2 separate regions of the Homo sapiens genome follow, and region 1 is linked to region 2. The links come from fine-mapping of genetic effects on gene expression. A gene starts in region 2. The other region holds a variant in brackets. All regions are shown on one strand. Distances are between the middles of the regions. Region 1 overlaps DNM1 (dynamin 1). Region 2 holds the start of ZDHHC12 (zDHHC palmitoyltransferase 12).

The links. PIP is the estimated chance that this variant, and not a neighbour inherited with it, causes the effect. A credible set is the group of variants that fine-mapping cannot tell apart.
Region 1: its variant is the best candidate, but not a certain one, in a credible set for the expression of ZDHHC12 in T cells (TOPMed, PIP 0.88).

What each region holds. Positions count from the first base shown.
Region 1 is chr9:128,233,473-128,245,570 of GRCh38, forward strand. It overlaps DNM1 (dynamin 1), which reads left to right. Exons shown (of 22, transcript NM_004408.4): 11 at 549-635; 12 at 5,973-6,043; 13 at 6,256-6,307; 14 at 6,513-6,524; 15 at 8,760-8,873. MIR199B (microRNA 199b) reads right to left here and starts at 11,358; the gene lies at 11,249-11,358. It overlaps MIR3154 (microRNA 3154), which reads right to left and starts at 11,558; the gene lies at 11,475-11,558. The variant T/C (reference allele first, on the strand shown) is at 4,416.
Region 2 is chr9:128,714,685-128,728,871 of GRCh38, forward strand. ZDHHC12 (zDHHC palmitoyltransferase 12) reads right to left here and starts at 9,443. Exons shown (of 5, transcript NM_032799.5): 1 at 9,310-9,443; 2 at 7,754-7,890; 3 at 7,325-7,402; 4 at 6,967-7,133; 5 at 6,189-6,818. The coding sequence starts at 9,409. The coding sequence ends at 6,497. PKN3 (protein kinase N3) reads left to right here. Exons shown (of 22, transcript NM_013355.5): 13 at 114-181; 14 at 488-551; 15 at 685-776; 16 at 2,063-2,239; 17 at 3,641-3,703; 18 at 3,865-3,941; 19 at 5,002-5,144; 20 at 5,226-5,333; 21 at 5,519-5,599; 22 at 5,710-6,232. The coding sequence ends at 5,922. It overlaps ZDHHC12-DT (ZDHHC12 divergent transcript), which reads left to right and starts at 9,778. Exons shown (of 2, transcript NR_046240.1): 1 at 9,778-9,951. RefSeq lists a silencer at 9,332-9,811 and an enhancer at 14,052-14,187.

The DNA of each region.
Region 1 (12,098 bases), 480 kb before region 2:
CCAGCTCTGACAAGGAGCATTGCCTGTCCCAGCCTGACTCAGGAGGCCAACTGGCACCTTGGGCCCTGTCCTCCCCCGATTCCTCCTGGATAGGAATCCAGAGGCTGTCCCCTGCCTGATTCCCCATCTAGCTGTCCCTCCACGCCTTTAGGAAGGCACAGGGTAGCCCTGAGTATGAGGGAACACCTTGGGAGCTAACGGTCCCCAGAGGCCTTAACCTAACCAGTCTGCGGGGCAGGCTCATTCCCATGGCCTTTCTCCCACGGGAACCACCCCTCTGCCCTGAAGTTGCCCAGGTAGGCCAGTGAAGAGGGCCCGGAACCAGGAAGACCCTTGAATCACCATTTGGAACCCACACTTGGGGGAAAGGGGTGGCCGTGGCTTGGTGCCATCAGCGTCCTGGGACCCTAGGTCTCTCTTCCCCGCGTTGTGGGCATTCTGTGTGTGCCTCCCACCCTGCGCCGCGGATCCCTGGACTCGTGGGGTGTGGGTGCTCCCTGCCCGTGCCCTCTGTGTACGTGGCTTTCTGCCCTCCTGCCCTTCCCCAGCTCCAGCAGTACCCGCGGCTACGGGAGGAGATGGAGCGCATCGTGACCACCCACATCCGGGAGCGCGAGGGCCGCACTAAGGAGCAGGTGAGCCCCGCAGCACCCGGCCTGGCCGCGCCTTCCTTCCACTCCTGGCCGCCTGCGCCTTCCACTCCTGGCCCTGGGGTTGCTTCCTTCTTGTTTTGTCTCTTCTGTCTCAGTCTTCCTCTGTCTCATACTGACTCTCTGCTTCTCTCTCTTTTTTATTGCAGTAAAATACACATAACATACCACTTTAGCCATGTTTAAGCGCACAGTTCAGTGGCACTAAGTACATTTGCGCTGTTGCACAGCAACATCCATCCACAGAACTGTTTTTTTGAGACAGAGTCTTGCTCTATCGTCCAGGCTGGAGTGCAGTGGTGTGATCTCTCAGCTCACTGCAACCTCCGCCTCTTGGGTTCAAGTGATTCTCTTGCCTCAGCCTCCCGAGTAGCTGGGAGGCTACTGGGAGGTGGCGTGCGCCACCATGCCCGGGTAATTTTTGTATTTTTAGTACAGACAGGGTTTCACCACGTTGGCCAGGCTGGTCTCAAACTCCTGACCTCAAGTGATCTGCCCACCTCAGCCTCCCAAAGTGCTGGGATTACAGGCGTGAGCCACCGCGCCTGGCCCACAGAACTCTTTTCATCTTGCAAAACGGAAACTGTCCCCATGAAACACTAACATCCCATTCCCTGCTCCCCCAGCTCCCGGCAGCTGGCAGCCACCATTCATGTTTCTGTCTCTATGAATTTGTTGTTTGTTTGTTTTAAGACGGAGCCTCACTGTTGCCCAGGCTGGAGTACAGTGGCATGAAATCGGTTCACTGCAACCTCCGCTTCCGGAGTTCAAGCGATTCTCCTGCCTCAGCTTCCCGAGTAGCTGGAATTACAGGCACGCACCACACACCCGGCTAATTTTTTATATTTTTGGTAGAGATGGGATTTCACCATGTTGAACAGGCTGTTCTCAAACTCCTGATCTCAAGTGATCCACCCGCCTCGGCCTCCCAAAGTACTGGGATTACAGGTGTGAGCCACCGTGCCTGGCCTGTCTCTATGAATTTGACTTTTCTAGGGACCTCACGTAAGTGGAGTCATACAGTATCTGTCACTTAGCATAATGTCTTCCAGGACCATCCGTATTGTAGCATGTGTCAAAAGCTGCTTCCTGGCCGGGCGTGGTGGCTCATGCCTGTAATCCAAGCACTTTGGGAGGCCAAGGTGGGCGGATCACGAGGTCAGGAGTTTGAGACCAGCCTGGCCAACATGGTGAAACCCCGTCTCTACTAAAAATACAAAATTTAGCCGGACTTGGTGGTGGGCGCCTGTAATCCCAGCTATTCAGGAAGCTGAGGCAGGAGAACCACTTGAACCCGGGAGGCAGAGATTGCAGTGAGCTGAGATCATGCCATTGCACTCCAGCCTGGGCAACAGAGTGAGACTCCGTCTCAAAAAAAAAAAAAAGCTGCTTCCTTTTTAAGGCTTGAATAATATTCCATTGTATGGATGGACCACACTTTGTTTATTCATGTGGGTTTTTCCTACCTTTTGGCCATTGTGAATCACACTGCTTTGAAGATGAGTGTACAAATCCCTATCTGAGTCCCCACTTTCTACCCTTTTGAGTATATACCTAAAAGTGGAAATGCTGGGCCATAGGCTGGTTCTATGCTTATTTTTTTTGGAGACAGAGTCCTGCTCTGTCGCCCCTGCTAGGCAGGAGTGCAGTAGCATGATCATGGTTCACTGAAGACTCGACCTCCCAGGCTCAAGCGATCCTCCGACTTTAGCCTCCCGAGTAGCTGGGGCTACAGGTACATGCCACTACGCCTGGCTAATTTTAAAATTTTTTTGTAGAGACGGGGGTCTCACTATGGTGCCCAGGATGGTCTCAAACTTCTGGGCTCAAGCGATCTGCCTCAGCCTCCCAAAATGCTGAGATTACGAGCATGAGCCACCGTGCCCAGGCTGGTCAGGCTTTCTTCACTTTCTGGCAGTCTATCCTTGTGGTCCTCTCTTTGGGCCTCTCTTTGTCTATTTGCTGTTTCTCTGGGTCACATTATACCCCTCATAGCCACCCCCACCTTTTATGTCATCGTTCATCAAATATTCATTCATTTCTTCCTTCAATCACAAACATAGCCACTGAACGCTACCTCTGAGCTGCACGGAGCAGAGGTGAGCAGGGCCCATCGTGGCCCTCACGGAGCTCGGAGGCTAGTCCTCCTTTCTGATCCCTGTCTGCCATGCCCCTACATGTCTGTTGTAGCCCCCTCTGGCTCCCATTTCCCATTTCCTGTTTTCACACATCTCTCCATGATGCTGCCATCTCCATTCATTCATGTTTTTGTTGTTGATGTCATATTTTTAAATCCTTATTGATTGCTTTTTAATTACAAACATCATAAATACTCAATAAAACATTCAATCAGTATCGAAGTGGTTAAATTACAAGGAGATAGCCCTCCATTCACTCTTCCCCACCCCTAGTTCTTCCTGAAAAATAACCATTACTAACAGTTTGGGGCTCCACACAGTGGCTTATACCTGTAACCCCAGCACTTTGGGAGGCCTAGGTGGGAGGATTATATGAGCCCAGGAGTTTGAGACCAGCCAGGGCAACATGGCAAGACCCCGTCTCTACAAAAAATTTAAAAAACTAGCTAGGTGAGGCGGCATGCACCTGAATTCCTAGCTACATGGGAGGCTGAGGTGGGAGGGTCGCCTGAGCCCAGGAAGTGGAGGCTGCAGTGACCCATGATCATGCCACTGCATTCCAGCATGGGCAACACAGTGAGACTCTGCCTCAGTAATACCCCAAAAAGCAAACCAGTTTAGTGTGTCACCTTGCAGGCATTTTCTTATGCGTGTGCACTCACACACAAACACACACAATCCAGATTCCATCTTTATCCTAAACCACAAGCCTGCTGTGTGCCTTGCCTTTTTCCTCTGAAGATAATTGTAATATCTAACATCTGTTGAGTATCTCATCTCCTGTGTCTTCACCAGTTCTAAGAGGCAGAAACGCTACATTTGTGGACTTTGAGGCTAAGTGAGGACAGACCCCAAGCTCACAGGAAGCAGTGGGGCTTGGGTCTGAACCTGGAAGTCTTTGTCCCATCTGGAAAGTCATTCTCATCACTACTGAATTCCAAATATGTTCACATTTAATCGTTTGCAAGGGTCTTCCCAGGCCGGAACCTGGACATTATCCTTGTTCTTTTTTTTTTTTTGAGACGGAGTCTCTCTCAGTTGCCCAGGCTGGAGTGCAGTGGCTCAATCTCGGCTCTCTGCAACCTCTGCCTCCCGGGTTCAAGCCATTCTCCTGCCTCAGCCTCCCAAGTAGCTGGGACCACAGGTGCATGCCACCATGCCCGGCTAATTTTTGTATTTTTGTAGAGACAGGGTTTCACCATGTTGGCCAGGCTGATCTCGAACTTGTGAACTTGTGACCTCAAGCGATCTACCTGCCTCGGCCTCCCAAAGTGCTGGGATTACAGGCGTGAGCCACCCCGCCCGGCCTGTCCTTGTTCTTTTGAACAGCTGCAGGGTGCTTTCTTGTCTAGAGAGTGTCATAATCTATTTCACCCTCAGATGGCCACTGGCTTGCTCCCAATTTTTCTCTATTACAAACTGTACTACTTTGAATACTCTGGCTCATGTATCTTTGCTCACTTGATGAGTGTATCTGTGAGATACAATTCTGGAAGTGAATATGTGCATTGTTTGTTTGTTTGTTTGTTTTGAGATAGGGTCTCGCTCTGACGCCCAGGCTGGAGTGCAGTGGTGCCATTATGGCTCACTGCAACCTCTGCATCCCTGGGCTCAAGCGATCCTCCCA[T/C]CTTAGCTTCCCAAGTAGCTGGGACCACAGGCGTACACCACTACACCTGGCTAATTTTTCTATTTTTTGTAGAGACAGGGTTTCTCCATGTTTCCCAGGTTGGTTTTGAATTCCTAGGTTCAAGCAATCCTCCTGCCTCGGCCTTCCAAAATGCTGGGATTACAGGCATGAGCCACCATTCCCTGCCCTGTGCATTTTAATGTTGTTAAATATTGCCAAATTGCCCTCAGAGAAGGTGATACTGATTTACACTTCCATCAACAATATATGAGAGAGCTCATTTCCCAACACTTGTGTCATGCTGATCATTTAAAAAGCCTCTGTTTGTTTGTTTGTTTGTTTGTTTGTTTGTTTGTGACAGAGTTTCGCTCTTGTTGCCCAGGCTGGAGTGCAATGGCACAATCTCGGCTCACTGCAATCTCCACCTCCTGAGTTCAAGTGATTCCCCTGCCTCAGCCTCCCAAGTAGCTGGGATTACAGGCATGTGCCACCATGCCCATCTAATTTTGTATTTTTAGTAGAGACGGGATTTCTCCATGTTGGTCAGGCTGGTCTCGAACTCCTGACCTCAGGTGATCCGCCCACTTCGGCCTCCCAAAGTGCTGGGATTACAGGCATGAGCCACTGCGCCTGGCTAAAAGCCTCATTTTTAACTTACATTTCTTTATTAATGAGAGTAAGGATTTTTTACACATCCTTAGTGGATGTATGCATTTCTTCTATGAATTATTCATCATGTTCTTGACTATTTTGATTTGTGATTTTCTTTTTTTTTTTTTTTCTTTTGAGGTGGAGTCTCACTCTGTCATCCAGGCTGGAGTGCAGTGGTGCCATCTCAGCTCACTGCAAGCTCCGCCTCCTGGGCTCACACCATTCTCCTGCCTCAGCCTCCCAAGTAGCTGGGACTACAGGAGCCCGCCACCACGCCCGGCTAATTTTTTGTATTTTTAGTAGAGACGGGGTTTCACCGTGTTAGGCAGGATGGTCTCGATCTCCTGACCTTGTGATCCACCCACCTCGGCCTCCCAAAGTGCTGGGATTACAGGCGTGAGCCACCGCACCTGGCCAATTTGTGATTTTCTTTCTTTCTTTCATCCTCTCCTCTCCTCTCCTCTCCTCTCTTCTTTTCTCTCAGGGTTTTGCTCTGTCTTCTAGGCTGGAATGCAGTGGTGCAATCTTGGCTCACTGCAGCCTCAACTTCCTGGGCTCAATCAATCCTCCCTCCTCAGCCTCCCAAGTAGCTGGGACTACAGGCACATGCCACCATGCCTAGCTACCTTTTGTATTTTTTGGTAGAGACAGGTCTCCCTATGTTGCCCAGGCTGCTCTTGAACTCCTAGGCTCAAGCAATCCTCCCACTTCCACCTCCCAAAGTGCTGGGATCACAGGTGTGAGCCACCACGCTCAGCTTTTGTCTTTCACTGATGGTAGGGACTATATTTATTATGGATACTAACCTCCTATATGTGCTGCAAGTACTTTTCTCCCAGCTTGCCCTGCATTTTAAAACTTTGTGGTGTCTTTTGCGCTTGCCCACCAACCTATGTATCCTTGAAGGTCATGCTTCTCATCGATATCGAGCTGGCTTACATGAACACCAACCATGAGGACTTCATAGGCTTTGCCAAGTGAGTGCTCCCCCAGGCAAAAAGTGAGTGCTCCCTGGGCAGAGAAGGTAACGTGTGTGTGTGTGTGTGTGTGTGTGTGTGTGTGTGTGTGTGTGTGTGTGTAGAGCCCAGGTCTGCTAGGTTAACCCTCTGGGTCCTGTGCCCACTAAGCAGTGGGCAGTAGAGCTGGGCCTCTTGAGAAGTTCTGAGACTCCTCCCCTCCCTCCCATTAGTGCTCAGCAGAGGAGCAACCAGATGAACAAGAAGAAGACTTCAGGGAACCAGGTGAGTGGGGCCCAGCACCCCAGCCCGAGGGATGGAGGGTGCCGGACGGACACCAGACTCTGAGAGCCCCCTCCCCTGAGGGGAAGGGTCCCACGGGGGCCAGGGACCTGTCAGCTGCCAGCCACAAGCCTCCCACTCTGCCTCAGTAACCCTCTCTCCTCTCTCCCCGATGCCTCTCGTGGTTGCTATGGTTACCTCTTTGCAGGATGAGATTCTGGTGAGTACCAGGACTGGGGCTCTCGGCTTGTGTAGTGAGGGGGCGGAGGGTCCATCGGCAGTGGGGATCTGCAACGGGTAGGAGGGCACCCTTTGGCTGAAGCTGCTTGTACACACCAGCCCCTGGCATTTCACACCTGCCCTCAGGCCAGAGGCAGGCCCAGCCGCATCCACCCGTCCATCTGTGTGCACGAGCCAAGCACCTACTTCAGGCAGAGCTAGACCGTGTGGGGCTGGGTGGGTGAGAAGGCTGGGCCTGGCACGGAGTAGGTGCTCCTTAAACATCTGCTGGATGGAGGGATGCACGTGAGCAAGACACATTTTTAAGAAGCTGACAGCCATCGCCTCCGGACTTGAATGAAGAGACGAATGAGAAGTCAAGAGAAGTCAAGAAGTCACTGCTCACCTGGCCTCCTGCTCTCTGTCCTTAGATGTCTGCGGAAACATCCCTCGTCAGAAGCGCTTGCTCAGTTGTACACATGAGCCCGAGGGTCCTCAGCTTTTCTTTCCATAGGTTCCAGAGGCCGTAGTTTCTTTGTAAGACTCTAGGTGTTTATGTGATTATTGGCTTAATGTCTATTTCCTTCCCAGGCCCCATAAGGGGAGGGCTGAGTCTGTCCCGTTTATCATTAAATCCTCAGCTCAAGCCCCTAGCCTGGCACGCAGTAGGTGCTCAACAGAATGAAGGGAGGAATGAATGTAGTATCAGGACAATTCAATTCAGCCAACACTAGCTGGTGCCTACACGGTGCTGGCCCCTGGACAGGACGTGGAGACCTGGGCCTGCTGGTAGGGCCCAGCTAAGGCCCCTGAGAGCTCCATGCAGGGTGGGAGTTGGGAGAGCAGGAGGTCCCTGGTGCAGGGCTGCAGAGAGGGCTTAGGATGAGCAGAGAGGAGTTCAGGGCTGGGTGTGGCCAAGGGGGAGGACAAAGACTACAAGTTAGGGTGGGGAGCAGGTGGCAAGATCTGCTGGTCACATCGTGGGACACAGTGGACTCAATTCCAAAGACAGTGACAAGACCCTGTGGGGATCCTCGCCTGATCAGGAAGGGGTGAGAGAGGCAGCTGGTGTTCTCCCCTCAGCTCAACTGCTGCTGGGCTGTGCAGCTTGGGTTCTCAGCGAGGTTCTCAGGGAACCAGAGAGGCATAAGGAGGGCTCCAGAAGCAAGCCTGGCCCCAGAGGGCTTTGCCGCCAGCCCCAGGCCTCCTTGGGTCTTCTCTGGATGCTCAGAGAAGAAGCTGGGGAGGTCAGCGTCCAGGAGGGAGCAGAAGCAGCTGCCTCATCCTCTCGATCTGACCCATGACCAGTACCTGGCCAGTGACCCTACCCCTGAAGTAGAATCCACAGGCCCTGGACCGTGGCCATGGCTCTGGACAGTCCTGGGGACAGCTGCTTCCTGCCATGAAAAGGGACCTTAGCTTGTTACTCTAGGCACTTTGTGGCTCAGCCCTTGCCCCTGGGGACCTGGAGCCAAAGACCCTTAGAACCGTACTATCATAGCTTTTATTTATTCATACTACAAATATGTATTGATCACTTACTATCTGCCAGGCCCTCTGCAAGGTGCTGGGATGTACTAGTGACCAACAGTTCATGATTTAGCAGGGGAGGCTGCATCGACAGATAATCACACACACGCACGTAGAGAAGTTAATTAAAAATCGAAGCCCTTGTTACAGAAGTCGACTTCAGGGAGTGATCAAAGATCATTATGGGAATCCTGATTTATACTGGGGGACAGGAAGGGGCTGCCTGAGAATGTGAATCCTGAGCTGATACTCAAAGGCTGAGTAGGAATTTGCCAGGCAAAAAGGAAAAAGTGCTTTCTAGGCAGAGGCGGCAGCAGCATGTGTAAAGTCAGAAACACATCTCAGAACAGATGAGACCTTAAGCTTCCAAGACTCGCAGTTGGCTTCCCCAATCGGCCCCATAAACTCTGCTTGCATACTTTTAGTGACAGGGAGCTCATCCCCTACCCAGGCCTCCAGTCCCTTAACTCGGCCAGGTCTGCCTGTCAAAGGCTCTTTATCCTGAGCTGATCTCTGCCTTCCTCTGTCTTCCACTCTGTTCACTTGTGGTTCAAACCAAGGCAGGTCTGGCCCCCACCCTCCCTGACTGCCAGGCCTCAGAGAGCTGGGAGAGGGGTGGGGTTTCGAATGCCTCTCTTTGCCTACCCCATCCCCCATGGGGAGGCTCAGGCCCTGTCCACTGACCTCCTGCCCCATCACCCTCCAGGTCATCCGCAAGGGCTGGCTGACTATCAATAATATTGGCATCATGAAAGGGGGCTCCAAGGAGTACTGGTTTGTGCTGACTGCTGAGAATCTGTCCTGGTACAAGGATGATGAGGTGAGTCAAGGGCCAGTGGTCATCAAGGGGCTGGGCTGGTGGACAGAGTCAGGCTCAGACCCTCCCATGGGCTTGGAGTGGGCTAGACCATGGAATAGGGTTTTAAAATGTCTCGTCAAAGATCCGTGGGCAGGCTGGGTGTGGTGGCTCACACCTATAATCCCAGCACTTTGGGAGGCCGAGGCAGGTGGATCACCTGCGGTCAGGAGTCCGAGACCAGCCCGGCCAAAATGGTGAAACCCCATCTCTACTAAAAATACAAAAATTAACCAGGTGTGTTGGCGGGCGCCTGTAATCCCAGCTACTAGGGAGGCTGAGACACAAGAATGCCTTGAACCCGGGAGGCGGAGGTTGCAGTGAGCCGAGATCGCACCATTGCACTCCAGCCTGGGCAACAGAGTGAGACTCCATCTCAAAAAAAAAGGATCCACGGGTGGAGTTGGGATGCAAGGGTCCAAGGCAGGTGACCCTGGGGGTTCAGGGGGAGGCACCCTCTCACCCAGGTTGGAAGGAGAAGGTAGCTTGGCAGGACTGAGGAGCCTGGGGCTAAGCGCCCTGGGGAGGGTGGGCAGGGGACTTGGGTGCCCCTCCCTGACCCTGCAGCCCAGCAGCCTTCCTGTTTTCCCGCTGCAGGGCGTGCCGCCTCCTCTGTGGCCCCCACAGGCCCATGACACACACAAGTCTAGCTGCCAGACACCCGGTTAACCCCTGCACCCCAGTCCCCTAGACCCCTGCAGTCCAAGGGAAATGACCAGGGTGCCCTCAGGCTGAGGGGCAAGGAGTGTGGGGGCCCTGCCGAGGTGCCACAAAAAACCCCTCCCCGCCCACTAGGGTGCACAGAAGCCCCTGCCACCTCCTTCCCCTGTTGCTGGTCTCCTTTAAGAATGAGTCTATTTGGCTTTCACATCTGGATTCCAGAGGTGACCAGAGAGAATGGGGAGGGCTGGGGGTGGGCTTGTGGTAATGAACTCCAGCTGGCCAAGGAGTGGGGGAAGGGACCCTCTTCTTCCTGAGGGGGCTGTTGGAGGCTACAGCATCCTCAACGGGGGAGCGGGGCTCTGGGTGGGGCCTGTGATTTTGGCCTCCAAGCCCCCTCCCAGGTCCCTGTCTCCTCCAAGTTTGTCCTGGGCAGGGGCCCCAACTCTCCACCTTGGGAGGGGCCCTCTGTCGTCACTGGCGGGGGCGCCAAGCCATCTGGACCTCATTACCCCAACCCTGGCCTCCCCCACCATGGGGGCCCCTGGAAGGGATGGAGTGTGCAGTGGCATGGGGTGCGGGTGGGGGGTGGCTTCCTGCCGGTCTCTCTGCAGGCTCCCTAGATGCCCCCATGGGTTTGGGGTCTCCCATGTTGAGGTTCCTTACTCAGGGCCAGGGAGACCATGTGACCTGGGGCTGAGGGCCGGAGACCGGGTGACACTGTGGGGGAGGGGCACGTGCCACTGAGGGGGTCCCCTGATCTCATGCCTGAGCCTGCAGGCCTTTCTGGAGCTTTTGTGTACATCTGAGTTAAGTCGTGTGCGAAAACAGCTCTGAGAATCATATGTGGGGAGATGGGAGTCAGCTGTGGGCTGTGGGTGCTGGGAGGCGGGGTGTGTTTGTGTGTGTGTGTGTGTGTGTGTGTGTGGCTTGTGGGTCTGGTGTGTGGGTGTTTTTTAGGAGTGTGATTGGAGTATAAGCATCTAGGTGTGTTTGGAATATGTGGTCTGCATTTGCATCTGGGGGTGAAATCTGTGTGCCTGGGGAGTGACTCTGGGCACCTGCCTGTGCTTGGGGTGTAAAAGCAGGTGTGTGTGGGGAGGGGGCTCTAGGAGGGAGGGTGTGAGTATGGGGTGTTTGAGAATCTGTGTATGTCTTTGGGATGTGAGGATGGGGGGAGTGTTCCAGTTGTGAGGGTGTGTATGGGTGTGTGTGCATGCACTTGTGTGTGTCCGTGTGGGACATGGGTGTGAGATTGAAAGTGTGGGGGTGCTCATGTGTGTGAGTTCTGGGGCTGTGAGTGTCAAGGTGCGTGTGTGTTGAATGTGAGTGGATTCTTGCACTAGGACCACTGGGGATGTGGAGGTGGTCCAGGCTGGTGGGAGAGTGGTCTGTACTTCTCTACTCAACCACCAGCCCTCAGGTTTTGGGGTGAGGGAGGCTCTTTGGGCAGACCGGCGGCTGCCCACATCCCCAGTCCCCATTGACCCCCCCATCCTCTCAGTCTTCCTCGGCCACCCTTCCCCCATCACCGCTACCCCCAACCAGTCCCACACAGGGTGGCACCCCCATCCATCTGTGCCTCCTCCCAGCCCGCCCTGTGCCCCAACCCCCTGGCTCCAGGCTCCGGTTCTGGGATGGCAGGCAGGGGTCGGTCCAGCTCTCCAGTGGCGGCGGTGCCGAGGGTCTAACCCAGCCCAGCCTAACCAATGTGCAGACTACTGTACAATTTGGGAGTCCTGAACAGATAGTCTAAACACTGGGTAGACGGAGTGGAGGTGTCCTCTGGTCCATCCAGGCAGCAGTGTCTGTCCATCCGGTGGGCGCTTCAGCCCCATCCCCTGGAGATCCGAGAACCCCCCAACCCCAGCCTGTGTCCCCCTAGCCCCAGACCAGCCAGCCCGTGGTCCCCTCTCTGCTCCCAACTCCCCTTCTGCCTCCTTTGACGTGGCAGGGGTGAGCGGGAGCTGGGGCTGAGAAGGAGGGGCCTGAGGAGGGGGCCGGCCGGCAGGAAGGGAGGGGTGGGGGGAGGAGGCCGCTCCTACCTAGTGTCCAACCCCGAAGCACAGGGCGGGTGGTGGCGGGGCCTCTCTCGAACGGTTCCAGATGTTCCCTGGCCGTGTGTGCAACTTCCTCCTCTCCTCCCCCAGCCGCCCTCTGGGGCTCCCGGCCACCCGCCTGGCATAAAGAGGGCTTTATGTGGCTGCATGGGCCAGGGGGGCGTTGGGGGCAGAGAGGGGTGGGCGGGATGACGCCAGGACGGGGGAGCAAGGTCCCCCTAAACCCAGCCCCCCACCTGAGATCCTAGGCAAGGCTCATGCCCAACCTCTTTGAGTCCCCGAGGCCCACACAGACGACCCCCGTGAACAAGTAGGGCATGGGTGACAAAAACCCCTCCCCTCTCCCAGAGCCCCATCCTGGGGTACCTCCTCCCTAGATCCCTGAACCCCTCCCCTGGGACACAGCAGCCTACATACACATGTGCCCACACCGAGCACACACATGGGCCTAGCACCCCACACGCCTGTG
Region 2 (14,187 bases):
GTGGCTCCTAGGGCCGGCTGGGGCTGGCAGGGCCACCCAGCTGTGGGGTGGCAGGCCTGAAGGGAAAGAGAGAAGGAAGCCCAGCCCTGCCCTGAGCTCCTCTATACTCACAGCGCACCAAACGTCCCCATATGGAGCCTAGGACTCGACGTGGGCCATCTCCACCAGCCTCCCCCACCAGGTACCCCATCCTGCGCACCTTCATGTTTGAGACGTTCGTCTGCTTGCTTGAACATTTGTGTATCCATTCATACATTACTCCCTGGCTCCCTGGCGGGTGCGCTGACTGGCTCTCGGGGTCTGATTTACTAAACCCACATTATTGAGCTCCAGCTCTATGCCGGCTTCTAGGAGTCCTTACTGCAGGGCTTTTTCGAGCCCATAGGTCGGGACAGCCCAGGACTGGGCATGGGAGGCTTGGAGTGGCTCTGGGTAGGGGCCCAGCCAGTGCCCTAGGGGACTTCATATACCCTCTCTTCCTTTGCAGGAAACCCCCTCGGCTTCAGGACTTCCGCTGCTTAGCTGTGCTGGGCCGGGGACACTTTGGGAAGGTAGTGGGCTGAAGAGGGTGGTATGGGACGGGATTGGGGGCCTCATCACATGAGCCGGGAGGACCTGATCTGTGGGGGCGGTAAAGGCTCCCTGGTCTGGCCCACCTGGAGCACAACCTCTCTCTGGCCCCAGGTCCTCCTGGTCCAGTTCAAGGGGACAGGGAAATACTACGCCATCAAAGCACTGAAGAAGCAGGAGGTGCTCAGCCGGGACGAGATAGAGAGGTGTGTGGGGGTGCCGCAGGGCACCCAGGATGGCTGGCCTGGGCTGTGGCATCCAGAGGGCAGTTGAAGGTTCCTGGGGCTTTGGAGAGGTGACCCCGTGGGGCCAGCCAGCCTGCATTCTCTTTTGGCACCTGCAGTTGTTAACTGTGTTTCCTTGGGCAGGTCCCCTCTTCTCTCTGTCAGTTTGCTCTACTGTAAAATGGGGGCATTGGTGGCTGTGCACGTTCAGAGCTCCTTGTGAGCCCCTGACATATAGAAACCATCACTCTATGGCCAGGCGTGGTAACTCATGCATGTAACCCCAGCACTTTGGGAGGCCAAGGCAGGCGGATCACTTGAGTCCAGGAGTTCAAGACCAATCTGAATCACATGGTGAAACCCCATCTATAAAAAATAGCCAGACATGGTGGCATGTGCCTTTAGTCCCAGCTACTTGGGAGGGTGAGGTGAGAGGATTGCTTAAGCCCAGGAGGTAGAGGTTATAGTTAGCAGAGATCTCCAGCCTGGGCAACAGAATGAGACCTCATCTAAAAAAACTAATTAAAAAAAAAAAAAGGAGGGGGAGGCTGGGCACAGTGGCTCATGCCTGTAATCCCAGCACTTCAGGAGGCCAAGGTGGGAGGATTGCTTGAGCCCAGGAGTTCGAGGCCAGCCTGGACAACATGGTGAAACCCGCCTCTACAAAAAATACAAAAATTAGCTGGGCGTGGTGGTGCACACCCAGCTACTCGTGAAGCTGTGGTGGGAGGATCACTTGAACCTCAGTGGCGGAGGCTGCAGTGAGCCGAGATCGCACCACATCACTCCAGCCTGGGCAAGAAAGTGAGACCCTGTCTCAAAAAAAAAAAAAAAAAAGGCTGGGCGCACTGGCTCACACTTGTAATCCCAGCATTCTGGAAGGCCGAAGCAGGTGGATAACTTGAGGCCAAGAGTTCGAGACCAGCCTGGGCAACACAGCGAAACCCTGCGTCTACTAAAAATACAAAAATTAGCTGGGCGTGGTGGCGCACTCCTATAATCCCAGCTACTCGGGAGGCTGAGGCACAAAAATCTCTTGAACCCGGGAGGCAGAGGTTGCAATGAGCTGAGATCACACCACAGCACTCCAGCCCAGGCGACAGAGCAAGACTGTGTCTCAAAAAAAAAAAAAAAATGAAAAGAAACCATCAGTCTACTTGCCTGGCACTTTGGCTGAGGGCCCAGTGAGCCAGGGGTGTTGTGCAGGGCACAGGGCACAGCCCAGGGAAAGTTTTCCTTCCCTCTAATACTCTTGCTCTCTCCTGTAGCCTGTACTGCGAGAAGCGGATCCTGGAGGCTGTGGGCTGCACAGGGCACCCTTTCCTGCTCTCCCTCCTTGCCTGCTTCCAGACCTCCAGCCATGCCTGCTTTGTGACTGAGTTTGTGCCTGGTGGTGACCTCATGATGCAGATCCACGAGGATGTCTTCCCCGAGCCCCAGGCCCGGTGGGTTCCATCCCTCCTGCCTGCCTCTTCCAGCAAACTTTGCCTGGTTCCCTACACCCACTCTCTACATACTGCTTTCTCCAAGTGCCCAACAGCAGGGGAGCAGGAGTCAGAGGCCTTGGTTTACATCCTGGCACCAACTGACAGCATTTGTGATCCTGGGTATCAGCTTATGAAGCTGTGCATTAGGTTTCTTTTTTTTTTTTTTTTTTTTTTTTTTGTGAGACAGAGTCTGGCTCTTATTGCCCAGGCTGGAGTGCAATGGCATGATCTCGGCTCACCACAACCTCCGCCTCCCTGGTTCAAGCCATTCTCCTGCCTCAGCCTCCTGAGTAGCTGGGATTACAGGCATGCACCACCACTCCTGTCTAATTTTGTATTTTTAGTAGAGACGAGGTTTCTCCATGTTGGTCAGGTTGGTCTCTAACTCCTGACCTCAAGTGATCCGCCCACCTCGGCCTTCCAAAGTGCTGAGATTACAGGCGTGAGCCACCACACCTGGTGAGTCTCAGATCTTTATTTGAAAAATAGGCATGATTGGCCGGGCACCTGTAATCCCAGCACTTTGGAGGCTGAGGCGGGTGGATCACCTGAGGTCAGGAGTTCGTGACCTGGCCAACATGGTAAAATCTTGTCTCTACTAAAAATACAAAAATTAGCTAGGCATGGTGGCACACGCCTGTAATCCTAGCTACTTGAGAGGCTAAGGCAGGAGAATCGCTTGAACCCAGGAGGCGGAGGTTGGAGTGAGCCGAGATCCCGCCACTTCGGTCTGGCGACAGAGTGAGACTCCATCTAAAAAAAAAAAAAAAAAGGCCGGGCACGTTGGTTCATGCCTGTAATCCCCACACTTTGGGAGGCTGAGGCGTGTGGATCATGAGGTCAAGAGATCAAGACCATCCTGGCCAACATGGTGAAACCCTATCTCTATAAAAACTAAAAAAAAAAAAAAAAAAAAAAAATTAGCTGGGCGTGGTGGCGCGTGCCTGTAGTCTCAGCTACTTGGGAGGCTGAGGCAGGAGAATTGCTTGAACCCAGGAGGTGGAGGTTGCAGTGAGCCGAGATCGCACCGCTGCACTGCAGCCTGGGTGACAGAGTGAGACTCCGTCTCAAAAAAAAAAAAAATAGGCATGATGAATATCCACTGCAGGGACCAACACTTGGTCCCTGGCACCATTTAAGGGCCCATGAAGGGTGAGCTGGAAATGCACGCAACCTTGGGGCGACCTTGGGACTATTGGAGCACCCCCACCCTCAGCATGATGCTTGTCCCAGTCTCACTCATCTCTGACTCTGGCCGGGACATCCGGGATCCCCCCGCTATGGCCATCCTGGTGCCTCCCTGCCCTGCCTCCCTGGTGTGTGTCTTGGGCCTGAGTTCTCCCATAACCACCCCTGCAGCTTCTACGTGGCTTGTGTTGTCCTGGGGCTGCAGTTCTTACACGAGAAGAAGATCATTTACAGGTGACTTTTGTCCCAGGGATGCACGGGGGTAGGGGTGGGGGTGGGGGTGGAGTGGGTAAGGACAGATGCTGCCTCCGCCTGCCTGGGCTGCTCCAGGGGCCGTTACTGTTCCCTGGGTCTAAGCCCCACTCAGTCCCTTTGATCTGCACCCTTGCCCTCAGGGACCTGAAGTTGGATAACCTTCTGCTGGATGCCCAGGGATTCCTGAAGATCGCAGACTTTGGACTCTGCAAGGAAGGTGGGGGCCGCCCATTGGGATCCATATCTCCAGCCTTGTTTACCCACCCTGGCCAATAGGATGATGGGCACATGGCATGTCCCAGGAAATCTCCTCACCTGCGGATGCCCTGGTTCCACCACCCCAGACCTCATTCCAGGGGACAGCTGGGCACACTGGCCCTTTCTTCCTAGTCCTAGAGGCTCGTAGCCCCAGCCTGCACCTGGCCCAAGGGAGAGCCTGTGGTCAGGGATGGGAGAGGAGACTGAGTTCTGCCTTCTGTTTTTTTTTTGGTTTGTTTTTTTTTTTGAGACGGAGTCTTGCTGTGCCGCCCAGGATGCAATGCAGTGGTGCAGTCTCGGCTCACTGCAGCCTCCACCTACTGGGTTCAAGCGATTCTCTTGCCTCAGCAGCCCAAGTAGCTGGGACTACAAGCGAGCACCACCACACCTGGCTAATTTTTGTATTTTTTTAGTAGAGACGGGGTTTCACTGTGTTAGCGAGGATGGTCTCGATCTCCTGACCTCATGATCCACCCACCTTGGCCGCCCAAAGTGCTGGGATTACAGGCGTGAGCCACTGCGCCCGGCTTCTTTTTTTTTTGAGATGGAGTCTTGCCCTGTTGCCCAGGCTGGAGTGCAATGGCGCAATCTCGGCTCACTGCAACCTCTGCCTCCAAGGTTCAAGAGATTCTCCTGCCTCAGCCTCCCGAGTACCTGCGATTACAGGCACATGCCACCACACCCAGCTTATTTTTTGTATTTTTAGTAGAGACGGGGTTTCACCATGTTGGCCAGGCTGGTCTCGAACTCCTGACCTCATGATCTGCCCACCTCGGCCTCCCAAAGTGCTGGGATTACAGGTGTGAGCCACCGCACCCAGCCGAGTTCTGCCTTCTGTGACCTTAGCCTGTGAGCTTGGCTCTGCATGCAGTCAAATGGCGTCATAACCATTCCCACTTCCTTGGGTACAGGGCAGGGCTTGGCACAGGCTCAGCTCCCTGGCATCATAAGGCTTGGCTATTGAAGTTATTGTGAATAGGCCACACCAAGCAGCTATTGGTGTGCCTGTTGGTTTGCAGGGATCGGCTTCGGGGACCGGACTAGCACCTTCTGTGGCACCCCGGAGTTCCTGGCTCCCGAGGTGCTGACCCAGGAGGCATACACACGGGCTGTGGACTGGTGGGGGCTGGGTGTGCTGCTCTACGAGATGCTGGTGGGTGAGGTGAGTGCTGGAGCCTGTTTCCTGGGCCTCTGGGTGGGGGTGGGGTGGCCCGTGCATCCTGCTGAGCCCCCATCTCCACAGTGCCCGTTCCCAGGGGACACAGAGGAAGAGGTGTTTGACTGCATCGTCAACATGGACGCCCCCTACCCCGGCTTTCTGTCGGTGCAAGGGCTTGAGTTCATTCAGAAGGTAAGCACTGCGGGGTCTGGGGCTGGGCTGGATGGCCGCTCAAGGCCCATGTGCCCTCTGCCGTGGGACAGCAGACCCCCTGCCACCCATCCTTAGAGCGCTCTGGGCCAGCGTGCTTGGGGCCTGTGGATGATGGCAGTGCCTGGGGCTGAATGCCCTAAGTGAGCGCCTGTCCTATTGCCCAGCTCCTCCAGAAGTGCCCGGAGAAGCGCCTCGGGGCAGGTGAGCAGGATGCCGAGGAGATCAAGGTCCAGCCATTCTTCAGGGTGAGCGGCTGGGGTGGCGGTGGTCCCCTGTGCCTGGCAGGGTAGGTGGCATGGAGTGACTCCTGGAGCTGCTGTTCCTGCCGTCTCAGGCGCCTCTCCTTTGCCCTCAGACCACCAACTGGCAAGCCCTGCTCGCCCGCACCATCCAGCCCCCCTTCGTGCCTACCCTGTGTGGCCCTGCGGACCTGCGCTACTTTGAGGGCGAGTTCACAGGGCTGCCGCCTGCCCTGACCCCACCTGCACCCCACAGCCTCCTCACTGCCCGCCAACAGGCCGCCTTCCGGGACTTCGACTTTGTGTCAGAGCGATTCCTGGAACCCTGAGGGCATCTCCTGGCACCTCTGTCCCCTTCCCCCACAGACTGTTAGAGCCTCTGCTCGTTCACCCGTGCGCCCTGCCTGGAGGTCCAGGCCTTGCTGGGTACTTCTGAGCCCTTGGGATTCAAAGTGGCAGCCATGGGGCCACTGTTGTGGGCTTTGCTCAGTGTCACTGGGCAAAGTGTGTCCCTTCCCCCTCCAGCTCGCCCTCTTCTACCTCCCAGCGAGACCTGGCCCAGAAAGGGTGCCGCAGCAAGGAGTGATATGGTTTGTCTTTTTAAGACTGGACTTGCTTTATATTAAATTTGTAAAAGTGTGCACTGGCAGCAGCCTGGGCGGGGCTGGGGTGGAGCCCGGGGTCTGCTTGGGCCTGAGCCACCCACAGGTCCTTTTCTTCCCCTTCTTCCTTGGAAGGCAGAACTGCCCACCAAGGCAGGGATCTGTCTGACTTGAAGCTCCGTTCTGGGGTCTGGGAGGCGTGGGCAGGAGTGAGGGCCCCAGGCCCTCTGAGCGCTCACCCCAGCTGGGGACAGGCCCCGTGGTTTTCAGGCACAAGACGGTAGCCCGGCCTCCAGCAACCCTAAACAGCTGGGCTGCTGCCCTCTTCCTCCTCCTCAGCCCAGAGGGTCTCCCAGGACCCTGAGGGCCATCCACAGAAGAAGTGGGCCAGGTTGCGGGTCAGGCCTCGGTCGAAGGGGTTGCTGGGGCGCTGGCGGAGATAGGCGATGCGGTGTGAGGAGATGAATTCCCAGGTGGTGGTGTTGCTGGCCACCAGGTAGAGGTGCGAGACGAGGAGCAGGCTGGCCACCAACGAGAAGAGGGACAGCAGCAGGAAGGTGGCGAACAGGAGCCCGCTGGACCGCAACCACTGACCCCAGGGCTGGAAGAACCGGAGGCCTGACCTGCGGTGCAGGGGACAGGGGCCTGGTGCTGGGGGAGGGCAGGGGAGCCCTTCCCTCCCCATGCCGGGTCCCTGGGAGTCCTGGCTCTGTCCACCCCTGTGGGAGCATTCATCCCACCCTCCCTCTACACCCGGGCAGCAGCACCCACCATGCCAGGTACAGGCCCCACAGAAGCACCACCAGCTGCAGCGCCAGGTAGACCACAAAGAGTGGGTGGTTGCGCTCTCCCACACAGTTCTCCATCCAGGGGCAGTGGTGGTCGTAGCGGCGGACGCAACGGCGGCACTCACGGCAGTGCCGAGCCCTCAGGGGCTGCTGTGGGCATGGAGGAGAGTGGAGGCTCAGTGCCAGCCCTGCTGTGGGCCCACCACTGAGGGAAGGAATCAGGGCCTGATTCTGGAAGGCCTTCTTGGAGGAGGGGCGAGGCCCAGGCAGTGGGGCAGGAGGAGGTCGAGGAGTCTCAGCTTTGGCCCAACCTCTCCCACGGGTGTCCGTGCATCACTCACCAGCACCAGGCAGTATCTGCAGCGCCGAAGAGGGATGGCTGGAGGAACCATGGCTGTCTGCTCCTCTTTGAGCTCCTCCTGGAATGAGGGGTGGGGTGTAAGACAGGGTCCCCTTGGGAGACAGATGGCATTGGCGGGCAGCTCCCCTAGGGGCCGGCTTAGCTCTGGGTATGGAGTTTGGGACCCATCCCATGCAGAATGGAGGTGTGGGGTATGGCGGAGCACCCTGGACTGAGGGCGGCTGTGTATGTTTGCAAGTCTCTTCCTTCTCTGGGGCCCAGCAGTTTCCTCACTACTGTAGATGGGGCTCTAGGGGTGGCAAGAGGAGTCACTGAACTGCTCCCACAAGAGCCTGCAGCACAGAGCCTGGCATGGAGACTGGTGCTGGTTGTTAGGTCCCTGTTGGTGAGAGTAGGGGCCCCTGGTTACCTGAGGCTGGGGCTGCACATTCACGTAGCCAGGGTCCATGAGTGACACAGCGAGGTAGAGCAGCAGGGAGCCCAGCACCAGGAGCAGGAAGGTGAGGGGCAGGAGCAGCTCCCCCTGCTCCTCCCATTGCCGCAGCTCTGGAGAGGCCGGAGAGCACAGTGAGGCTGGGCCGGGTAGAACAGGAGTGGGTGGGGTTGGGGTGCAGTTGGAGGTGGGGAAGTGTGTTCCTGGCTGAGCAAAGGCCTGGAGATGTTGGTTCCATGAGTGGCTGTGTGTGGCCAGCAGTTCATCTGCACTTTTATCTGGAGGGTCAGAGGGAACCATGGAAGGTTATAGAGCCAGATCTGTTTTGGAAAACCTCATTGCTAAAGAAATGGATCAGGGGAAGCCTGGGGGCAGAGAATCTGGCCAGGAGGAAGAAGAGAGTCGCTACAAAGGCCTGGCAGGAAGTGAGGGAGGAAGGAATGGACAGGGGGCTGCTGGGTCAAGGGAGCCAGACCTGACTGGATGTGGGAGAGAGGGAAGAGGGGTCCAGCGTCTCTGGCTCTGCAATGGTGAGAGACTGGTTAGGTCTGAAATGCCTGAGAGAGATACAGTGGGAAGGGTGCAGCTGGCAGGCTCAGATGCTGCAGAGGGGCATACGGAAGGGTCCAGCAGGCTTCAGCCCAGGGAGGTGACAGGATTTTGGGGAGGTAGGGTGCAGGGCAAGGAGTGAGGGGGCATGAGACCACCAGACAGCAGAGTGTAGACAAATCCTGTGTCCCTTGGTTGTAAGGGGGAGCAGAGAAGAAAGGGTGGGTTTTGAGGGGGGTTTTCTGATACGGAGACCTGAGCAAGTTTTTAGGCTAAAGGGTGAAGGTGGTGGAGGAGGTCTGTCTTGGGAGGAAAGCCAGAAGGGGCCCCAGTCCAGAAACTGAGGCTGGACCGCCATGGAAGGAGGGCTGGGGTCTGCTGTGGGGGACAGTGGGGGAGGCTGCCTGTGGCAGGTGAGGCGCTGGGTAGGGGGCTACTAAGAGGAATGAGGGAAATGGAGGTGGGTGGGTGGGTGAATCTGTGGGAAGATGGGAGACAGGCCGCACCCCATGGAGTGTTCTCTGGCCTGAGGGTTTGCCTGGACTTGGGCAGCTAGTGGCCATGGGGGTGTGGGGGGTGTGGGTGTGGGCAGAATGCCAATCTTTGCATCTAGTTGAGCCTCCTAATCGTATGGATAGGAAGATTTGGGGTCAGTTCCTGGGAAGGATCATGTGGGTCCCAGGATCAGGGGACATGGGGCTCAAGTCGGTCCTTGGATCTGGTGGGCACCGGCTGGGTCCTGGGATGGACAGGGCATTTGGCAATGATCAGGAAGATGCTGGGATTAATTAGGGATCAACGGGGTATCAGACAGAGAGCAGGTGGCTCTTGGAATGATAGATGGGGAGAGGGCTTCAGGAGCTGGTGGAGATCGGGCCAATCCCAGGATCTCCAGGGATTAGGCGGGAGACCCAGTGTGACCAGAACGTCTGGGGAAGTACGCGGGATCGGGTGGGTCCGGGGTCGCTCGGGGTCCGGCTCACCGGTATCGTGCAGGAAGAGCACCAGCGTGATTCCCCAGGTCAGCACGGTGTGCCCGGTCCGCACCAGGACCCCAGGGCTGAGGAGCGCCCAGGGCGCCATCGCCTCGGCCCGGGGCCCCACCCGGAAGAAGCGCCCAGAGGGGCGGGCCCTCCGAGGGAGGGGAACGCCGCCGCCCGGGGACTGGTGGATCTAGGCGTTGGGCGGGGCCGGACTGGGTCAGGGAGGCTGCCTATTGGATGGCATCTGCGGCCGAATGGACCCTCAAGCCAACAGGTGCCTGAAGAGGCTGAGGGTGGGGCCGGCGCGCGCGCAGCTGGTAACTCCCTCAACTCCAGCCCCACCCGCCAGGTAACTTTTGAAAGCGCCGGAGCGCGCGCGCACCTCCCCCGCGCTCCGCTGTGCCCTCCCCCGCGTTCCCCTGTGCCCGCCCTCGCAGCCTCGCGCATGCGCGTAGCTCCCTGGGCGCTTCGAAGATCCAGCGGCTTGCTGTGAGTCCGGGAGGCAAAATTGTACCCATTTCAAAGATGTGATGACTAAAGTCTCGAGAGGGCCAAGGCTCGCCCAAGGTTGCTCTGTGGTGACAGCTTTACCTCCTTGCTATGTATTCTCAGATATTGCAAACGGACGAGAGAAAAGTGGAGGTACGTGGTGCACATTCTGACTATGGGTGATCCAACTTAGGCGGGAGTCAGAAATCCCAGCACTGCCCCTTCCTACCTGTGTGACCCTGGGCGAGTTACTGAGCCCCTCTGAGCTGTTTTCTGTCTCTATAAGGGGGATTACAATAGTGTCTTCCTCCTAAGGTGTTTGGGAGGATTAAATAATGGAAGCGCCTTGTCTAGCACGGGACTGTCTTGCCTCTCCTGCTGTGAGCCACCACCTACAGGCGGACTTTCCTCACCGGAGGCTGCAGGCTGTCCTCCTTCCCTGTGTCCCCAGGGCCTTCTCCACTCAGCCCCGCCTTTCCACAGCACCTCCCACTGATACCAGCATCCTCCTCCGCCTCCCTCTGATTGGCCCCATCCCAGCTCCTCCAGGATACTCCTCTGACATCTGTTGTTTTTCTCAGCTCAACATCCTTTTTTTGGTTGGGGAATCGACTTCCCATCCCATGTGATTGGAGGGACTGCCCCTCACCCCATAGGATGGCGAGCGGCAGGCTGTGGGCTTTCGACTCTGCAGAACCAATCACAGGCCTTCCATGAGATTACTGTCTAGATGCTGAGAGGAAGGAGCATTCTTTTGGATCTCAAGCCTAAGGAATGGGATATAAGGCAACTGGGAGCCGTCTTTACGCTGGGCGGAGAGGGCTTACCCTGTCTGTGGCTGGAGAAAATGAGACCAACTTATAAAGACACATAGAGATGGATAAGCAGCACTAAAGGAGGGAGCAAGAGATGGTCTGAACAACATTGTCTGAGCCCTCTAGATCCGGCTGTCCCTGAAGCTGATACTGACTCTGCATCCCCTGGTTGCAAGAGTCAATGAATGCCCACCTTTTTTTTTTTTTTTTTTTTGAGACAGAGCCTCACTCTGTTGCCTAGGCTGGAGTGCAGTGGCGCGATCTGGGCTCACTGCAACCTCCACCTCCCAAGTTCAAGTGATTCTCCTGCCTCAGCCTCCCAAGTAGCTGGGGTTACAGGCACATGCCACCACGCCCAGCTAATTTTTGTATTTTTAGTAGAGACAGGGTTTCACTATGTTGTCCAGGCTGGTCTCGAATTCCTGACTTCAAGTGATCTGCCTAACTCAGCCTCTCAAAGTGCTGGGATTACAGGTGTGAGCCACCATGCCTGGCCCCAATTCCCACCTTTGACTAGCCTGAGTAGATGTTTGAGTTGGGTGTCTGTCATTTGCAGCTAAGTCTTGACTACTGCACTGGGTGCAGGATCTGATGTGCTCAGTGGGGACATCCAGCACATTATCCACTCAGCACATAATTCTGAAGCTTCCGTGGGTTAGGCACTGTGCTAGTATCAAACATCCCAACACTAGTTCAAATAGTAAGGCCAGATTTTAATTAACAATATACTACTGATAGGGCGGAGAGCCCAGTGTGAACCAACTGAAACTTCTGTTTGTGCAGAGGTGACTGATGTTTTTTGTGGTTTTGGTTTTCTGCTTTCTTGAGATGGGGTCTCGCTATGGCCTCAAACTCCTGACCTGAGGCAATCTTCCCCCTCAGCCTCCAGAGTAGCTGGGACTGCAGGCGTGCTCCACCATGTCTGGCTTAAAGGGAGAATGAGGGAGTGGAGGGAAACGGTGAGGGCTTCAGCAGAATAAGGGAAATGAAAAATTCCAAAGGGTTGGTCATGGTAAATGTGATTAGGCAGCTCCGCGTGCTCGCTGGCAATGGTGAAAGTTAGGACTCTGTTCTCCTGCAGAGACTGGGAGACAGAGGCTCTGTCCTTCCTGATATTACATTTCAATAGAATGGCCTTCAGGTCCTTGAAAAAGACACTTCTGAGTTGTAGGAGATACACACTCATCTCAAATGGACAGAGGAAGGATCACAATTGTAAGTTCCCATCCCACCACACTTTTTTTTTTTTTTTTGAGACGGAGTTTCGCTCTTGTTGCCCAGGCTGGAATGCAATGGCGGGCTCTCGGCTCACTGCAACCTCTGCCTCCCAGGTTCAAGCGATTCTCCTGCCTCAGCCTCCCAAGTAGCTGGGATTACAGGCACCCGCCACCATGCCCAGCGAATTTTGTATTTTTAGTAGAGATGGGGATTCTCCATGTTGGTCAGGCTGGGCTCAAACTCCCGACCTCAGATGACCCGCCCGCCTTGGCCTCCCAGAGTGCTGGGATTACAGGCGTGAGCCACTGTGCCCAGCACTTTTTTTTTTTTTTGAGAGGGAGTTTCGTACTGTTTCCCTGGTGTGATCTGAGGCTCACTGCAACCTCCGCCTCCTGGGTTCAAGCAATTCTCCTGCCTTAGCTTCCAAAGTAGCTGGGATTACAGGCACGTGCCACCACGCCTGGCTAATTTTTTAAAAATTCTTAGTAGACACAGGATTTCACCATGTTGGCCAGGGTGGCCTTGAACTCCTTACCTTGTGATCCGCCTGCCTCGGCCTCCCAAAGTGCTGGGATTACAAGTGTGAACCACTGTGCCCGGCCAGAGGTCACATTTCTTAGGGAGACTCAGTAAAATGGCTTTATGGTTTAGACATCAGTCTATTTTGGAGAGGTAGGTCATGTTTGAAGGTGCTGAGCGGCAAAATTAGTTTCTTTTTTTTTTTCTCTCCAACTTTTATTTTAAGTTCAGGGGTACATGTGTAGGATGTGCAGGTTTGTTACATAGGTAAACATGTGCCACTGTGGTTTGCTGCACAGCTCATCCCGTCACCTAGGTTTTTGTTTTTGTTCGTTTGTTTTTGCAATGGAGTCTTGCTCTGTTGCCTGGGCTGGACTGCAATAGCACGATCTCAGCTCACTGTGACCTCTGCCTCCTGGGTTCAAGTGATTCTCCTGCCGCAGCCTCCCGAGTAGCTGGGATTACAGGTGTGCACCACCACACCCAGCTAATTTTTGTATTTTTAGTAGAGACGGGGTTTCACCATTTTGGCCAGGATGGTCTCAAACTCCTGACCTCAAGGGATCCGCCCACCCTGGCCTCCCAAAGTCCTGAGATTACAGGCTGAGCCACTGTACCCAGCCTGGCCACAGGTTTTTAAAAGGAGAGCCCTCCATGTGCCAGGTTTTGTGCTGGGCTACAGCAGAGCCTTGATGTGGCTTGTTGCTCACAGTCCAGTGGGGGAGACGAGACAAGGCAATTTCAGCCCCATGAGATAAGTAGGTGCTGTGATGGGATGAGCAGGAACTAGAGTGTTCCTGACACAGGAAATGGCAAGTATCAGGCCAGCGAGCTAGAGGAGGAGCACCTGGCACATCTGAGGATCTTGTTTTCCCTCCTTTACTGTGGCAACCTTGAGGTAATAAGTCATGTCAGGCCAGGTATGGTGGCATATGCCTGTAATCTCAACACTGTGGGTGGCTGGAGTGGGAGGATTGCTTGAGCCCAGGAATTTGAGACCAACCTGGGCAACACAGTGAGACCCCATTTCTACAAAAAAACAAAAATTAGATGTGCATGGAGGTGCACGTTTGTTGTCCCAGCTACTTGGGAGGCTGAGGTGCAAGGATTGCTTGAGCCCAGGAGGTCGAAGCTGCAATGAGCTGTGATCGTGCCATTGCACTCAGCCTGGGCAACAGTGAGACCTTGTCTGAAAAAAATAAAAAGTAAAGTCACTTCACCTCTCTGAGCCTCAGTGTCCTTGTCTGTGAAATGGATTATTGCCAGGGTTCTGAGGAAGCGGAAGGTACATGAAGCACTTAGCCCGGGGCCTGGGACACAGAATAAGGTTCAGCAGTGTTGGCTGCTGCTGGCAGGCACTGCCCTCATTCCCTCCGAGGCACAGACGACCCACCAGGGTTCTGAGGCAAACCACTTGATGCCCTTCCTGCCCAGGTCCTGTGGGTGGCCAGTGGCAGGGGGCTGTCAGCCAGGGGAGAGAGAGGCCAGGTCCAGGCCCTGCAGGGGGTGGAGAAGAGGGGACCTCGGCTTCACAGAGGCTGTGGGAGGAGTCAGTGCTCAGCTTCCAGAAATGCTTAATTGGGTCCTGATGCCCAGGCTTAAAACCTCACATAAAGGGTAAAATCCACACACTCACGGTGGCCTATAAAGGGTGTGACCGTATCATTTCTTTTTTGTTTTTTGAGACGGAGTCTCGCTCTGTCACCCAGGCTGGAGTGCAGTGGCACCATCTGTGCTCACTGCAAGCTCTGCCTCCTGGGTTCACACCATTCTCCTGTCTCAGCCTCTCAAGTAGCTAGGACTACCGGTGCCGGCCGCCTAGCGCAGCTAATTTTTT